2 separate regions of the Homo sapiens genome follow, and region 1 is linked to region 2. Evidence: fine-mapped expression QTL. A gene starts in region 2. The other region holds a variant in brackets. All regions are shown on one strand. Distances are from middle to middle.

Evidence for each region.
Region 1: its variant is fine-mapped to the expression of DOP1A in neutrophils (BLUEPRINT, PIP 0.95).

The regions. Positions count from the first base shown.
Region 1 is chr6:83,082,586-83,091,878 of GRCh38, forward strand. All of the region lies in intron 1 of DOP1A (DOP1 leucine zipper like protein A), which reads left to right. Among named protein-coding and RNA genes, the nearest start is that of DOP1A, 20 kb to the left of the region's middle. RefSeq lists an enhancer at 4,259-4,408. The variant CT/C (reference allele first, on the strand shown) is at 5,834.
Region 2 is chr6:83,063,979-83,073,271 of GRCh38, forward strand. It overlaps DOP1A (DOP1 leucine zipper like protein A), which reads left to right and starts at 3,693. Exons shown (of 39, transcript NM_015018.4): 1 at 3,693-3,801. It overlaps UBE3D (ubiquitin protein ligase E3D), which reads right to left and starts at 1,863. Exons shown (of 10, transcript NM_198920.3): 1 at 1,664-1,863. The coding sequence starts at 1,740. RefSeq lists enhancers at 3,502-3,571, 3,602-3,751, 7,217-7,276 and a silencer at 3,922-4,191.

The DNA.
Region 1 (9,293 bases), 19 kb after region 2:
TTGTACAGCATAGTGGCTATGGTTAATGATGATATGTTCTTGAAAAATACAAAGAGTAGTAAGTGTTCTTACCACAAAAATGACAACTATTTGAGGCAATGCATTTGTTAATTAGCTACATTTAACCATTACACAGTGTGTATATACTTCAAAACATTATATTGTACATAATACAATTTTATCTGTCAATTTGAAATAAGCTACATGTCTCTTTTTTAAACCCACTTTTTTTTTTTTTTTGAGACCGAGTTTTGCTCTGTCACCCAGGCTGGAGTGCAGTGGTGCGGTCTCCACTCACTGCACCCTCTGCCTCCTGGGTTCAAGCAATTCTTCTGCCTCAGCCTCCCAAGTAGCTGGGATTACAGGTGCCTGCCACCACGCCCAGCTAATTTTTGTATTTTTATTAGAGATGGGATTTCACCATGTTGGCCAGGCTGGTCTCAAACTCCTGACCTCAGGTGATCCACCCGCCTCAGCCTCCTGAAGTGCTGGGATTACAGGCATGAGCCACCATGCCTGGCCAAAAACCCACTCTTTTATAGATAACAACCAAAAATAAAAACTTCTGTATCAGAATCATGATCATTTTTGCCTTATATTTTAAACACTATCAGTATTGAGTGGTGAACCACTTGGGGTATTTTGAGTTGAGCTTTGGTCCCTGTGCTTCATTCAAGGTCTAGGAAGAATAACATATGTATTTACATTATTATAGTTTTTTTTTAAGTACAATTTCTAAGAAAGAAATCTATATAGCCGGAAAAGTTTTTTGAAAAAAGTTAATGAGAGAGGAGAGGTAGAATATGTCATGCAGGAGAATTAAGACTTGTGGTTTAAAAAAAAAAAAAAAAGTTCAGAAAGATACTGATTAAGGGCCAATTCCAGGAGTCAGTCTGCCAGAGTTCTTCCTGGTTCTTCCTTTTATTCTCTGTGGCACCTTGAACACTAATTGCCTTATATGAACATGGATTCATGTGTATATCTACCTCATGGATGTATTGTGAAGATACATGAGATAATTCACATGAAAGGGCTTAGTATAGTGCCTGGCACAGAGTAATTTGTAAGTCAGTATCAACTGTGATTATTATCATCATCTTGAGTAATACGTGGACAATGTTTATTTGGCTACTATGCTTTGGAGACAGGATGATCCTTTGTAACTCAAGGGTATGTGCTTAAGTGTTTATTATTATGGCTGTTTGCCATTTGAAGCTTAAAGTAGAATCCCACCTACCTGCTAATGGCTCATTCCAAGTTATAAATGGTGCTTATGTTTTGTATTTTCTAAAATTAATATTTTCATATTGCTATGTGTACCAGAAATCACAGAATTTGAAATGAGAAAGAATCTGATTTTATAGCATTCAGAGACAATTTTTAATAACGTATATAATTTTGTGTATATTTACTTGGTAAAAAAAGAAATCGTAAAGTTAAATCAGCTTCACTGTCACCTTGGCAGATCTATGGGCTTTTAAACCTCTTGTGTCTTAGGTTTTTATTCGTATAGCTTTTCTGAGACCTAAAGTGAAAATATAAATAGTCATATGCTGTATAACATTTCAATGATGGCCCACCTATGTAACAGTGGTCCCGTAAGGTTTTAATACTGTATTTTACTGTACTTTTCTATTTTTAGGTACACAAATACTTACTGTTGTGTTACAGTTACCTACAGTATTCAATATATAACATGCTGTACAGGTTTGCAGCCTAGGAGCAATAGGTTATACCATATAGCCAGGATGTGTAGTAGGGTTTACCATTATGTCTGTTTAAGCATGTTCTATGAATGTTCACACAATAACTAAATCACCCAACAACACATCTCAGAACATATTCCCATCAAGCAATGCATGACTATAAATAAGTACATAAAGTATAATAAAACTTTTTCCAAATTTTTCTCCAGCTTGAGATTTGCAGCTAATTAATTTGAAAAGATTTGACTTCGACGTCTGGGAGTATCATACCTAAGTAGTTTGTTTTTTTTGTTTTGTTTTGTTTTTTTTGAGACAGAGTCTTGCTTTGTAGCCCAGGCTGGAGTACAGTGGCACCATTTTGGCTCACTGCAGCCTCTACCTCCTGGGTTCAAGCGATTCTTGTGCCTCAGCCACCCAAGAGGCTGGGATTACAGGCACGCACCACCACACCTGGCTAATTTTTGTATTTTTTTTTTTTTTTAGTAGAGATGGTTTCACCATGTTGGCCAGGCTGGTCTCGAACTCCTGGCCTCAAGTGATCTGCCTGCCTTGGCCTCCCAAAGTGCTGGGATTACAAGCATGAGCCACTGCACCCAGCCTAAATAGGATTTTTTAAATCTCCTTTCACAGGGCTGGAATGACTTCCTTCACATTTAGATAGTTATGTTTAATACAGATTAAACTGAGCCAGTTTTTTAAAAGTGTAACTGGAATGTACACATTTTTATAAATGTTCTTAGGCAATCTGTTTTTTAAAGCACTTAATAGCCATGTGAATGTATTCTGTATTTGAGGAGAGTAAGGTCAAGTGTGACTATACTAGTTAAGAAATAGAACTGTAGTTCTGCTTTTTATTTTTCTTCTACAAAGCTTTTCTCAGAAAAAACAAACGAAAATGGTTTAACTATATTGTCGTTGATAGATTAGTTCATTTATTCAGATTATATTTGAGGCCCTACTGTTTATCAGCCACTATTATGGGACTGCCGATGCAGGTATGAACAACTAAGATAAGGCTATTGACTTCATAGTATTTGCATCCCATTGAGAGATGATAGACAGGAAACAAGCAAATAAATAGGAAAATTTCAAAGTGTAACAAATGCTAATAAGGAAATAATGTGATGTTATAGGGTATGTGGTAAGAGTTTGGCCCCAGGCAGGCTACTTAGACTGATCAGAAAGAACTTTTGGTAGGGTTTGATATTACTGGAGGACGGGAAGAAATCTGTCACATAGAGTTGACCAAAGAGATTTTAAATGTAGAGAATAGCAAGAACAAAATGCCTAGAATGCAAAAAAAATTGGTGTATTTGAGTTTGGATATTATTCTAAGCTTTGTATTGGAATATTTGTATTTAGGGTATAGCTAAGATGTTGCTGTTTCTGCTGTATCAGAAGAGGTCTTATCCTTAGAGAATAATTAAGACTAGAAGGTGACCAGGACAAGCTTTGAGGAAAACCATTGATGGGTTTTTTGCGGTATTTTATGTTATGTTATGTTATGTTATGTTATGTTATGTTATGTTATGTTATGTTATGTTATTTTGAGACAGAGTCTCGCTCTATCGCCATTGACAGGTTTTAGGCAAAGGAATGACATAATGTGTCTCTGGCTTCTCTGTGGAGGATGAATTATGCAGACTCTCAAGAATAGAAGCAGGAATCAGTGGTGTGCTGGAGTGGGCTATAACTGGTTAGAATAATAGAAGAGGAAAAGTGGCAGGTATAGATTTAGGACACATCAGTTAACAGATGCTATTGGAGCTATAGGACTATAGGAGATAACCTAAAGGGAAAGAAGAGAGGAGGGTTCCTGATTGAACCTTGAAGTAAGGCTGACCCATGAATCGAAAATCCACGTATAATTTTTGACTCCCCAAAAACTTTACTAATAGCCTACTATAGACTGGAAGCCTTACTGGTAACATAAATGGTTGATTAACACATTTGTAGGTTATATGTATAATATGCTGTATTCTTATAATGAAATAAGCTAGAGAAAAGAAAATAGTAAGAAAACCATAAGAGAAAATATATGTACTGTTCATTAAGTGGAAGTGGATCATCACAAAGATCTTCATGAACCTCATTGTCTTCACTGTGAGTGGGCAGAGGAAGAGGAGGAGAAAGAAGAGAGGTTGGTCTTGCTGTCTTGGGTAGGTAGTAGAAGTGGAAGAAAATCCACGAAGAAACGGACCCATGCAACTCAAATTGCATGTTTTTCAAGACTCAGCTGTACCTCAGCATTTAAAATTGAATAGAAAAGAGAAGCCAACATAAACTGAAAAAAAGAGGCTAAGAGATAACAAACCTTGAGAGGGAAGAGTCCCGGAAGCCAAAAACAAGGTATTGAATACTGCTGAGTTGAATAAAATGAGGGGCTACAGAAGTGACCTTTGGCTTTGGTTAAAGCACATTATGGGTGATTTTTATACGGGTTTTTTTCCTGGAGGGACAGTCCCATAGGCATTTCACGGAGTCTGAAGAGTGAATAAAAGATAAGGAAAAAATAGCAAATATAGAGAAATCTTTCAGGTTTTGCTATGAGAGAATAAAGAAATGGGTTGGCAGCCAGAGAGCCTGTGGGGGTCAAGGAAAGGCTATGGGTTTTAATTTTAGTTTTAGTTTTAGTTTTAGTTTTAGACCATGAGAGATTCGGGGGGTAGACTTTAGGCTGTAGACAGGAAAAGAAACTGATAGTATTGAAGGAGCCTGAGCTAATAGTCCTTGGGAAGGCAAGAGGAGACCAGATTCAGAACACAGCAAGAGGGAGGCCTTTACTGGGAGGAAGGTCCTTTGTCCTTCATAATGGAAAGAAAAGTAGAGAATATGGGTATAGGTGAAGATAGGTTACAGATTTGTTGGAGGGAAGGTAAGAATATTCTTTTTGCTTCCATTTTCTTAAGTTTGAAACTAGATCTTTAGCAATGATGGAGGGAAGACAGTATTAGGATTTTGAGAAGAGAAGGTATGAAATAGTTGTGTCAAGAACTTAAATTTACTAAGGAAACAGTGGGTTAGGATAGTGTTGAGTACCTGTTTGAAGTTTGTGCTTCTCAATTTAAGTCAACCTGATTGTATGATTTTTTTCTCCAATGTTTAGTTGCTCATTTTCAGGCTGAAAACAAAAAAAAACATGTAGTTGAGTTTAACCAGGATTGGAGTTTTGTCAGATGAGTATAAAGAGGAAGATTCCACACTCTTTACCCCAAGGTAGGATGGGTATGAGAAGGAAAACAGCCTCCGTGAAAGTGAAGAGTAATGACTAGGAGTTAGGACTCTAAAGCCAAATTGCTTGTGTTTAAATCCCTACCTCTCCCATTTACTAGCTGTATTGCATATCATTTCTATCCTTCAGTTTCCTTACTTGTAAATGTGAGTAATAGTGCCTACTGCAAAGGATCAACTGGGATTAAATTAATTAAAATACACGAAGCACTTGAATAGTTCCTGGTATTTAGTAAGTACACTGTAAGGTTAGAAGAGGTCTTGTCCTCAGAGAATAATTAAGACTAGAAGGCGACAGGACAAGCTTTGGGGAAAACCATTGATGTTTGTTTTTTTGTTTGTTTGTTTGTTTGTTTTGGTTTTTTTTGAGATGAAGTCTTGCTTTGTTGCCCGGGCTGGAGTGCAGTGGCGCGATCTCAGCTCACTGCAAGCTCCGCCTCCCAGGTTCATGCCATTCTCCTGCCTCAGCCTCCCGAGTAGTTGGGACTACAGGCGCCTGCCGCCATGCCCGGCTAACCTTTTGTATTTTTTTAGTAGAGACGGGTTTCACCGTGTTAGCCAGGATGGTCTCGATATCCTGACCTCATGATCTACCCCTCTCGGTCTCCCAAAGTGTTGGGATTACAGGTGTGAGCCACCGCACCCGGCCAACCATTGATGGGTTTTAAGCAAAGGAATGGCATAATTAAGACTAGAAGGTGACAGGACATGCAGAGGAAAGGCTGATGATCTGTTGAGCACATATCTGAAGTTTCCTAGAGTGTATACCATTTGAAAGTTTGAGACAACAGTAAGGGCATGGGAGATTGGATCAGATTAGGGAAGTACAGAGCATCAGGTTTATAATGAGTGACAATAACCTATTTGTAAAATACCTAGTAAGTGTTGTCTTCCAT[CT/C]TTTTTTTTTTTTTTTTTTTTTGAGATGGAGTCTCACTCTGTCCCCAGGCTGGAGTGCAGTGGCGCGATCTCAGCTCACTGCAACCTCCAACTCTGAGGTTCAAGCGATTCTCCTGCATCACCCTCCCCAGTAGCTGGGATTACAGGCATGCACCACCACACCCAGCTAATTTTTGTGTTTCTAGTAGAGACGGGTTTCACCATGTTGGCCAGGATGGCCTTGATCTCCTGACCTCGTGATCTGCCCGCCTCAACCTCCCAAAATGCTGGGATTACAGGTGTGAGCCACCATGCCCGGCCTTCATCCATATTTTTAACACTCAAGGGAAGTTTCCAGCTTTCAGGAGTGACTGGCTTTATGAATTGACTAAATAAATGATTCCTGAAGATTATTTAGTGACAGTGCCAACATTGGAACCTAGAACTGTTGACCAAAATGAAATAGATTATTAATGGTTACATCTGTTAGATGGTAACAATTACTGAATGGTAATTTTTCATTAGTTAGAAAAGTTTGGAAAGAGCATCTACTTATATAGCTTTTTTTCCGATGTTCTCTTTCAAAAACAACAGCAGGGTTTTTTGCCCCATTGCATGGTGCTTACAATAATTCATTAATTTATATTCTTGGGATGTGCTAGAAACACTTAGTCCCCAGATACATCTTTGGAATTGAGTAATAATGAATCTTTTCTCTTTTCAGCCCTCCCCCTGCCTTTTGTGGCAAAGGAAGGAGAGAAAGAGAAAATGCAGCTAGTGATAAGCAAACTAGCCAAAGTATCTTTGTGTTGTTATTCTGAAGTGAGGTCTACTCACTTTTTATCACCATTTAAACAGAACTTTTAAAAATTGAGATGGTATGATACAATATTTCATTTCTTATTTAAATTTTAGCTTTTTATGCTATAAAGTGTAAAAACAAATCTGTACTACCTACTAATTTTTTCATAGGGCATAACTTGCCCAGAGAAATCTACAGCTTTTATCTTTTTTCATAAACAGCTTTTTTGCTTTATTTTTATAATTGATATATGTTATATTTGTGAGACAAAACATGACACTAAATTATGTTTCATGACAATTCAGGTCCAATTTATCTGAGTTGTAACTTTGAAAGTATTGCAACTAAATTGTCCAGTGGACTAAAGATCAAGTCAGAGAAACTACGATTAACAGCCCCTAGAAGAAAGATTACAAATGCAACTTTGATTTACTTGCATCACTTTAAACAAGCTAGAATTTTTATTTTTATTTTTTTAAGTTTCCTGGTTATATTAAATAAATAGTTTGTTATTGTATCTCCTGGAAAGTTGCAGGTTATTGAGAGGAGGGAGTTAATTTCAAACAAAACAGCTCATTTGACAGAGATGATGTAAATGTTTGATATAACGTTTAAGATGATGGAAATGTTCTGTATCTTAACTGTAGTGAAGAATCTTGATTGTGGTGATGGTTTTATGGGTGCACGCACTAGTCAGAACTCATCAAATATGTGTATTAAATATATACAGTTTAACAAAGCCATAAAACATGTTTGGCAATAATACTACATTTTAACTAATATTCACAAGACAATTCAAGATAGGTTAGTGAGTCCTCAGTTTTCCAGTTTGCTGCCAAGAAATTCAGAGCCACATCTGATGCTTAATTATAACTTACTACCCCTCTTAATTAACATACTTGCTTCCCAGTGTTGTTTTGATTTCGTAGGAAATAATGACGACAACTGTTTCTTGAGCATTTTCTATGTGCTGAGCACTCTGATAACTTTAGTATGTTACTTATTTAATTTTGACAGCCATTCAAGTATAAGTGTTTTCATCTCATTTAATGGATAAGGAAAACTGGTTTGACAAAATTAAGCATGTTGCCCAAGGTCATACAGCTGCTAAGTAAGTATTAGAGCTAGGATTTAGATTTAGGTCATCTTGACTTTAACCCCTGTTCTTGGAGGCCCTACCGTCTACTGCCTGTCTTTTCATCGCCTGGGGTTTCTGTGAAACACTACTCTGTTATTAAGTATGTCTATTTATTTTGTGTTTATTCTGGAGAAGAGGCATGGTATAAAGTTTGATACACTATGGGGATACGTTATATTTGCATTATGATCTAAGTCAGTGGTGTTTAAAGTGTGTTATTCACAAACTTTGTTAAGAGACATGGTGAAATAAGCACAGAGATAAAAGTAAACATTTAGAAACTTTTATAGCAATTTAATATTACTGCAACAACTAAAGCACATGATTTTATATTTTAGAAAAGTATTGGTCAGTGATGGATTTGGTGGAAATACTGATCTTTCACTACAGATAGTTTGAGAAGTATTGACCTAAGCCATTATAAAACAAAATATGGGGGAAAATGACTGAGAACTGCAATTTGTATGTATATATTGGATGAAAGGCTTAAAATGGTGTATCTTTACACTTCTTTTCTGATATATAATGACAATTTTATTTGCATTAAAGTCATTGTGGAATTACAACTAAATTTTTAGTCCTAGGATTTGACTATTGTATTAGTTTTCATGCTGCTGATAAAGACATACCTGAGACTGGGCAGTTTACAGAAGAAAGAAGTTTAATCGGACTTACAGTTCCATATGGCTGGGGAAGCCTCACAATCATGGGGAAGGCAAGGAGGAGCAAGTCACATCTTAATGGATGGCAGCAGGCAAAGGAAAAAAATTAAAAAAAAAAAAAAGCTTGTACAGGAAAACTCTCCCTTATAATACCATCAGATCTCACCCACCACCATGAGGATACCATGGGAAAGACCTGCCCCCATGATCCAGTTACCTCCCACCAGGTCCCTCCCACAGCACATGGGAATTCAAGATGAGATTTGGGTGGGGACACAGCCAAACCATATCAACCATCTTTTCACATGAAAAGTAATACTGCAGCTCTGCTGATGAAACTTCTGCAAAATGTCTCTTCTCATTTTTCAGCAATTTAAGATTTTGCTTTTAATATTTTGTTTTATATGTTTGATATAAACATATATCAAACAAACAAGCTATATGAAGTCTTTTTAATCATATTTAAATATTTAGGAATTTATTGCCTAAAAAAAAGTAAGAAAGTTCAAATTAATTACCTGACCAAACTTTTTAGCTGTAGATGCATACAAGAGTTATAAGCCTTACAGACATAGCTGGTCATTATTAATTGACTTTTTTATAGCAAATAAGATTATCTGAAGGATGTGTATGTTGAGATAATATTGCTTAAAAATTATTAGGCTGATAAATGACCCCTATTTTCATTAATAGAAATTACTACTAAATTGCTTGGCAGGTTAATCTTCCTCATGCACTGAATATTATATGTCTTCAAAATGAATGCTATTTTATATCTTATTCTGGAAATCTTGCTAAGGAAGGAAAAAAAATGTTCCTGCTGATAAAATTTATGCGTGTGTTTTACTCTGTCTACCACATTCTTAAATTCATTGATT
Region 2 (9,293 bases):
AGAAAAACATCCAGCAATAGGAGAACAGATAAATGAATTGTGGTATATTCATACAATGGAAAACTTAGCAAGAAAAAGGAATGGACTACTGATATATGCAGCCACATAGATGGAACGTGAATCTGAAAAATATTATGGAAGGAATGCAGCCAGAAACAAAAAAGTATATATTGTATGAATCCATTTATAAGTAGTTCAAGAAATGGCAAAACTAAGTCCAGCAAAGTTAGGTTTCTTTTTTTTTCTTTTTATTTTTTATTTTTTGAGACGGAGTCTCTTTCTGTTGCCAGGCTGAACTGCAGTGGCGCGATCTCAGCTCACTGCAACCTCCGCCTCCCGGGTTCACTCCATTCTCCTGCCTCAGCCTCCTGAGTAGCTGGGACTGACTAAAGGTGCGCGCCACCACACCCAGCTAATTTTTGTATTTTTAGTAGAGACAGGGTTTCACCATGTTGGCCAGGATGGTCTTGATCTCTTGACCTCGTGATCCGCCCGCCTCAGCCTCCCAATGTGCTGGGATTACAGGCATGAGCCACCCGGGTACCTTGCCTAAACAAAGGAGAGTAGTCCAAGGGAACTGTGAAAGGCCCCTGCATGAGAGGAAGGGAGGGTTTGTTGTGTGTGTGTGGTTTTTGTTTTATTTTGGTAGGGTTTGGGTTCCTAATTACTCTACAAGGTGCACCAGAATTGGAGATATTTGTCCAAATTCATAAATTTTGAAAGAGAAAAAGAAATACATTCAGAGTACTATTATTCCCATTTCAAGATTGAAGAAATTCAGATTAAATTATTCTAATTTCGTGAGGAAGCTAGCATTTGAACTCAGTTCTCACGCCATATTCCAAATTGCCACACCAGATATCTGGCAGATTTAGGGAAGAGGAAAAAATTAAGCATCAATCTACCTGTGGCACCGTGTAATACCATTCTCAGGATTTTAACTTCTAACTTACTCTCTTTGAAACAGCGATCACAAAGGAATAGACAAGGGGACCACAAATCATTAAAACTGCTGTCAAACAAAATAGAGAACATTTTTCCTAAAAGTTATTTGTGTAGCGAATAACAAGTTTGACGTTCTCACTGGAAGGAAGAATATGAATAAATGAACGAGCTCCAGTAAGAAGTCTACAACCTGTCTTAGTGGTTCACTAAACTCACGTTTATTGAATGATTGTGTGGTTTCTCTGCAAAGAGCAGTTTTGGACGAAAAGACCCGAGGTTATTTACAAAACAAGAAGCTCACATAGGAACTGATCCAGTAAGGAGGATCCCGAAGAGAGACAGACAAATCATTTTTTGCATTGTTTTGTTGGAAACGCCGGGCACTGCCAACAGTGTTTTACATCACTGTTCCTCAAATTTTAATGTGCATTTGATTCCTGGAAATCTTGTTAAAATATAAGTTTTGATTCCATAAGTCTGGTGTGGAGCTGAGACCCTGAATTTCTAAAAAGCTCCCCAAAGATACCCACACTGTCAGTAGGGGTGGGAGTGGCGGAGCCGACTACAGGGGAAAGCTTCACTTTGAGTGATCGAGAGGCTCTACGCAACTGGAAAGAAGAAACTCAAAATCCCTCGTACAGAGAGAGACTCACCAGCCCCCGACCCCCGGGCAGCAGTAAAGCGAGCTGGGCACTGCGCCTAGAATCCCAGTTCTTACCCCAGGATCAGAAGCGCGCTCTGCAGCTGTCCCCGCACCTCCAGAAACACGCGCGTCTCCGCCGCAGAAGCCGCCATGGCAGGCTTCCAGTCCCAGACCGGACCAAGCTGGAGGTTCCGAGGGGCCCGGGTCAACAGGACCAGGAGAGGTTCCACGTGCGGACCAACCAGCGGCAGCCCCGCTGCGGCGCAGGCGCCTGTGCCAGATCGCAGGGCTGGCGCCGCCTACCAGCTCACAGCGCCACCTGCCGGCCGGAGAGTGCACCACCGAGAAGGCGCGTGACCCCGGAGGCCGGGGCGGGGCGCGCATTTTCAAAACCAGGCTTTGGCCCAGAGTGCTGAGAAAGGTGGGCGGCGAGAGGCTAGCTATCGCCCCACTCTGCTTCTTATGAGCGTGACTTGGCGCGTTAGCATCCCTGGAAATGACCATAAAAATCAGACCCAGGGTTCACACCTTTGGCTAGCTCGAAGGGAGGGAGATGATGGAGGCAAGTGTTACAGGTGGGCTTTGTCCCCAGGAGATGCAAGAACAGAATTCCCGGCCCCAAACCCACTTTATCTTGGTCTCTTTATGAACAAGGGTCGTTTGTTAGCCTCTATCTAAAGCGACAAAATTTTCAAGAATTGACTTGCCATTGCTTCTCAACTTAGACAGGATAGCTCCAAAATTGAAACAGGTGCAAAAATATAAGGAAGTTCTTTGTTACCTAATGCAGAAGAGTGTGGCTGAAGTCTATCAGGACTAACCATTTTTTAGGGGGTAAAAAAGGAAGATGAGAATGATTACGTATGTACAGCTCCACTATTCACTTTCACAAAAGTAAAAACTAAGAGAAGTTGGAGAAGTTTACTACCAGAAGATAGTTTTGAAAAGTTTGACACAGTAAAGAACCTGGTATAATGTAAATACTTATAATGAAGAACTATTAAAATATAAGACCGGGTAGAATTACAATAGGGCTTCTTAAAAACAAGGAGCTGCTTTTATTTATTTATTTTTTTTCGGAGTCTCGCTCTGTCGCCAAGGCTGGAGTGCAGTGGCGCGATCTCGGCTCACTGCAACCTCTGCCTCCTGGGTTCAAGCGATTCTCCTGCTTCAGCCTCCCGAGTAGCTGGGATTACAGGCGCACGCGCCACCATGCCCGGCTAATTTTTCTGTTTTTGGTAGATCCGCCCACCTTGGCCTCCCAAAGTGCTGAGATTACAGGTGTGAGCCACCATGCCCAGCCTAAACCATAAATAAATTCTAAATAAATAAATCCTGTCATATATTTTAAGATAATAGCTTGACAATTTTTCTAAAATCAGTATTTGGGGTGATTAAAGTTTATTATGTTGATGCACAAATTATTATATCTATCACAATAATTTGAAGTTATAGATGGAAGCAACAACTCACTTAAAAAAATAAAGTTTACTATTATTTGGTCTCAAATAATTCATCTATTTGAAGGATGATGATTTCAACTCTTCATATCTTCCACCTTTAGTACCCGAGGCTATTGAATGCTTAAATATTGACACATTATATTGAAATATACAACTTCCGTAGCACAACTTACTCTTTATAATTGTTTTGTTAGCTTAAAAGATTTTTATATATTTAGTTACGTATTTGTAAAAACTTTCATTTTTTTACGGTATGGTGTTGGCAAAACGGTGCAATTTACCTTGGAGTAACTAGATATGATTGATAGAGCTCTAGACTCAAAATAGTTCCAAATCTGACACCAACTACTTGTCTCCTAACTTCACAAGTCTCCTAACCTCTCTGGGATGCAGGTTACTCATATGAAATATTGAGAAACTATTCAAATAATATTTAAAAGCTGTTTTCAGTTCCTATTATCTCTTCAAATGAAAACATCTGCTAACCCCCTTTCTAGCCACTCCTGAAATTGGTAGCCATGGCCGCTTCCCGCGACAGTCCACTTGAGGGCGCTGTGGCAACAGCTAGCGCCGGGAGGCAGGAAGCCGATCGGGGGCGGGGATCGAAGGCCTCAGACGTCGACGCCGGCGTGGGCGCGAGCACGGTGCACTCTGGGAGCTGTCACTAGGCCCTTCGGCTCCCGGTCTCGGTGTAGCTGCCGTGGTTGCCAGGAGAGCTGCGCCGGCGAGAAGCGGCCGAGCCAGCAGCAGGTAAAAGCGTCCCTGCCCCCAGTGCGGCCGCTAGGCTGGTAGCCGGCTCCGAGCATCCTTCTCGGCCCGGCTAGGTCCTGAGCCGCGGGGACGCCTTGCGAGTCTGACTGCTGTGGCGTCGGGGGTGTTGCCGCTCCGGCCCCGCCAGGAGCTGCGAAGCTGGTCGGCCGCCCTCTGGTTTACGGGGAGTCGGGAGCTGCGCGGGGACTGGAGGGCCAGGGCTGGGGCCGGGGCCTGGGCCGGGCAGAGGCGCGAGGGCGGCCCCAGGTGAGGGAGGCCGGAGGCGGGGCCGGGGAGCCGGGGACAGGTCCCGAGCCTCCCCTGCTGGGGCGGAGCGGTGCGCAAGGCTGGGGCAGAGGTCGCACCTGTGCGATGGAGGCGTGCGGAGTACCCTCTTTGTTGAAGGAATCGAGGCGTTGTGCCTTCTCGGCTGGTGGGTTCTTTTAGCATTGAGGAGACACGTAGGCCCGCGATGGTTCATGTTCTCCGTGGGGCTTAGAAAGGAGTACCGAAGTTTATTAAGAGGAAGTCAGAAGAGTCAAACGGGTGTTGTTAACAATTATCACCTTTGATTCCTAAGCCTTTTAAAGTTGCAACATAACAATAGTCACTTGTTCGGGCCTCCTCCATTCCTGTACCCTGAGGGGGGCGGGGAATGGCACACAACTATTTTTCTTAAGCTAAGTAAATTGTGTTTGAACATTTTTACACTATCTTAGAGTTCTATGGCGTTTGAGAAATGTAAAGATTGGGAAAATGACTTCGACTCCAGCTAAAGCAGTCAAAAAAAATGATAATTACCAAAAATGTAGGAAACTGTTTGCCTGACAAATAGGCCCTGAACTGTAGAGAGAGAAAAATCTGTTTTGATGTTGTTGGCCATTGTCTATGCAGACATAAGTTCTCACATTTTAATTTTGTTTGTGGGTATTAATATGGTCTACAGTGAATAACATACGTCGGCATTATGTGCTAAGTAACTCACCACCTGATAGATAACACAGTGATTTAGGTGGGCCGACTGAAGTTATGAGTAAATTAAAACCACGAGTAGTCTAAATGCTTTATTTTAGTGATTACTTTCGGCCACAACTGATAACTAAATCATTCTCTGTAATTGTTAAGCAGTAGCAAATCTCCACGTGGGCTTGATTATTAGGTACCTAGTGCTGAAGGAACTAAAAACACCTGATTTAATACACAAACCAGAAAATGTGACACCATAACCCAAATCTTAAATGTAAGGTAAGTGTTGTCAGTTAAATGTTTGTATACATTCAAAGAAGTCCTATTTTGTAGTTAAAGTAAAGGAGTGAGCTCTGGCCTGGGAATGAAGAGATTAGATTCAAGTGCTTTAATCTGCTACTAACCAGGTGTGATCTCCAGGCTTCGGTTTTGTCATTGTTTAAGGAAATTTGAAAAGACCAGGGTTTTCCAAACTGATGTTTCCCCCAGAACAGTGTTCTAAAACCATTTAATAGGCTTACTTTCCCCAAAGCAGTGTTCAATGGCAAATAATTTGGGAGCACACTAGGTTAAACTAGGTTTAACTTTTTTGCTTATAAAGGCAGGACTCTTCAAAACCTTTACTGTTATGCTGATACATGTAAATCTCCAGAAGGTTATCCTAGCATTCCCAAATTTACCTGATCTATTTTCTCATGGCCAAATGGTTAACAACTCTTAGAATATAATTACATAGAATATAAATTTAAAAACTGCTGTACTTAAGCTGAGTCCTCTTCAACTGTAAAGGTCCATGCATTAGGCTTATTTTTTGGCTGTCATTTTAAACTTTTTGGAGCATGAAGATCTAGTGGCAACTCACTTGTATAAAAAAAATTATATTTTTCTTAGTAAAATATTAATGATACACTTAAGTTCCCATGAGTCTTAATGCTTTAATTATTGGCAGAAGACTTATCTTATTCTTTCTGGTTTTTTGACTTTTTTAAAACCATAATTCATGTTTTGAATTTGATGGTGGAGTGTAGTTATTGATTTTATTCAAAATGGCATTTTGAGGTTCCAACAAGTGAAGACTTGTTGATAATGGCATCACTTTTGCTGTGATGATTTCTCCTTATAGTCATGCATTCCTAAAATGAAATTATGGTAGAAGCCACCCAAAATGTGCTTACTGTGTAATAACTACCTATTTTAAGAGCTTATATCATGGAAAAGAGCTAAAGGCTAAAACACAAATTTTGAGACAGTTACTTCTAAATTGCTTTACAAACAGGATGTGTGCTGAACACAATCTTAAACTGTTTTGCTAAAGTCTGTTAAGTGTCACTAGTACACCACCAGTGTGGATATTCTGTTCATTCTTTATTACTTTCTTAGGGTGAATGCTGTTAATGCACAATTTTGCTTGCAGATAGGAGAGGTGGGAAGAGAACATGTAATTTTAATAGATAAGCGTTAATTCAGGTAAATTATCTCCCTGGAATAAAACTATTAAGTAGAAATATAAAGCTAATATTTTTTGTGTAATAGTTAACAGTTTTTATTGAGAATTGTATGAAAATATGATACCCTTGTCTTTAACTGGCGGTTTCCCTTTTTCCTTTATTGTATTTACTTCCTCCTCTCCAAGCTATCCAAGCCTGAAATCTCAATGACCTTTCATTGCATTGGTCAATTATATAGTATCAAATTTATTAAGGAAAAATTTATATATACTGATGTACATTCATTTAAGTGTACATTTCAATAAGTTTTAGTAGATATATATGCACCCGTGTAGCTACCACCACAATCAAGATTTGGAAGATGCCACCACTCAGGCACATATAGTTATACTTTTACTCTCTGAGAATGTTCTTCTGTTTCTGAGTGTCTAAATTATACCTTTAAGACCTAGCTCAAATGCCACCCTGTGAACCTTTTTTTGATTACCTCATTTTGAATTAATTTCCTCCTCTTCTGACTTTCCTTTTCACATTTTTTTTTTTCATCATTCTTCTCTGTTCTTTGTGGTGGCTAACCCAGTGGCAAACATATAGCAGGCACTTATTTGTTGACCAAATGGATTAATGTAATATTTCCTCAACTTCAGTCTTTGTGATATCATCTTCAAAATTTTGGCCATATCTTCCTGTTTGGCATACTTCCTGTTTAGTTATTAATATTTCTTTATATCAATGTGATTATTAAAGTAATATTTTAAAGGAAACTTGGAATAACTTTGAGTAAAAAGCAGGTGGCACTTGCCATAAACAGAAGGTGGACGTATACGTAAAAATAATGAAAATCAAAGTCCCCTTAATTTCTAACTAGAAACTATTGCCTGCAGGAGGCTCTAAGCCTAAAACTTGCCCTTTGTTTAAAAGTGAGATTGGCAAGAATTTCAGTGGTGTTAACATCTTGGCACCAAACTGAGACTTTCTTCTTGATACAGTCAGAGGAACTGAAAGAGAATGAAGAGGAAGTAACCTTTTTTTTTTTGAAATGGAGTCTCACTCTGTCATCCAGGCTGGAGTGCAGTGGAGTGAGCTCACTGCAACCTCTGCCTCCCGGATTCAAGGTATTCTCCTGCCTCAGCCTCCTGATTAGCTGGTATTACAGGCACCCACCATCACACCGGGCTAACTTTTGTATTTTTAGCAGAGACAGGGTTTCGCCATGTTGGTCACGCTGGTCTCAAACTCCTGACCTCAGGTTATCCGCCTCGCCTCTGCCTCTCAAAATGCTGGGATTACAGACATGAGCCACTGTGTCCGGCCCCTCCTCATTTAATTCAGTGTCACTTAGCTCTGCCCTCGGATCTTATAAAATCATCCCACGTCTCCATTTGGTGGCCCAAATTTTTGTAGATACTAAGTTAATCAGTGCTTGAAAATTCCTTAGAATTTTATCTGTGCAATAATTGAGAAACAAAGCCTTAATTGTAAATTAAAAAGTGTACTACAATTACCTTAAAAAATATAGTAAAAAAAGTTACTTTAAAAAATAGTACAAAGATAATATTCTTGAATCAGATATGTCTTTATTTTTTCAAAAATGTTCTGAATGTTACTGATGTTACATCCTACTAGGGTACATTAGCCTTAAGATAAACATTTGAATCTAAAATCTAAATCAGAAAACAAGTGGGAACCTGTTATATGACAAAGTGATGACTGTTGATTCAGGAGTGATGAAATGTTAATATAATGTTTATCTGGCAAAGCTCCTGTATGAGTAGATGAGGTAATAAAGTTAAAATAATCTCCTATCTCCTTTAGTTTTTTCTCTCATCACTTAAGTTTTATATAGCTATATTTTTATATTTTAATCCTGCCGAAGACATTTCTAGACTTTTTCCTCCTGAGATGACACCTTCTACTCTCCTGTGGAAGGAGTTTCGTATGAACATACTGGAAAATAAATTCCCTGCTCTTATTTTGTAAAATACATTTTGTATTTAAAGTTGCTGGAGTTACTTATAGGCATATATCCATATTATGAGCCTAACATTTGCTGTTATTTCGTGTTCATGAACAAAGAGCTTGAGTAAATAGACCCTTTCATTTGGTGTTAACGGTTTCCAAAAAAAAAAAATTAACCTGAGTGGTGATAAGTTTATCAGTACACACAATCATTTGCTACTCACCAAGAGGTCAGATTCCTGGGTTTTGTTTTTGTTTTTGAGACGGGGCTCTGTAGTCCAGGGTGGAGTGAGATTCCTGTTAATATAAGGTTCTGGGATACAACCTAAAAAATTGGAAGTAAGTAAAGAGCCATCTTGGATGCATAGCATTTATTTCACAAACAAGTGGTTTCTTTCCTGCTTCTCACTGTAAAATAAGGGAGCAGTACAGAAGCAATATAGGTAAATTGTCATCATTTAGAAGTGACAGCTGACTATAATCAGAAAATCATAAAAATACTGCAATCTTAGTCCTTTGAATTATACAGGTAAATAGCCCTACATTTTTCAGTTGCTTTTGATTGTGCTATTATATTATGAAAAGGTACTATAAAGTATCAGCTACCTGAAACCTTTAGAATATGTGTTATTTTTATCGAATATTCTACATAGCTAGAATTTTTTTATATACCCCAAATGCCATCGCAGAGCACTGATTATGCTTTTTGCTTCTGTTCAGAATGATGCAGCTGGCACAGTGGCTTTTCCATACATGCTTAACAGTTTAAAAATTTCCTGGAGAGGTTTTTCTCCTGCTGGCCTGTGAAAAAATAGAACATAGTACAGTACTTGCTTTAAAGTTAGTCTCTGACATTTTGGAAGAAATAAGTGTTTGAATGACTTCCATATTATATACAGCATTACCACCAAGTAGCAGTTCACTTTTTTTTCCTTTTTCTTTTTTTTTGAGACAGACTCTCACTCTTTTGCCCAGGCTGGAGTGCAGTGGCATGATCTCGGCTCACTGCAACCTCTACCTCCTGGGTTCGAGCGATTCTCCTGCATCAGCCTTCCAGGTAGCTGGGACTACGGGCATGTGCCACCATGCCCAGCTAATTTTTATTGTATTTTTTAAATA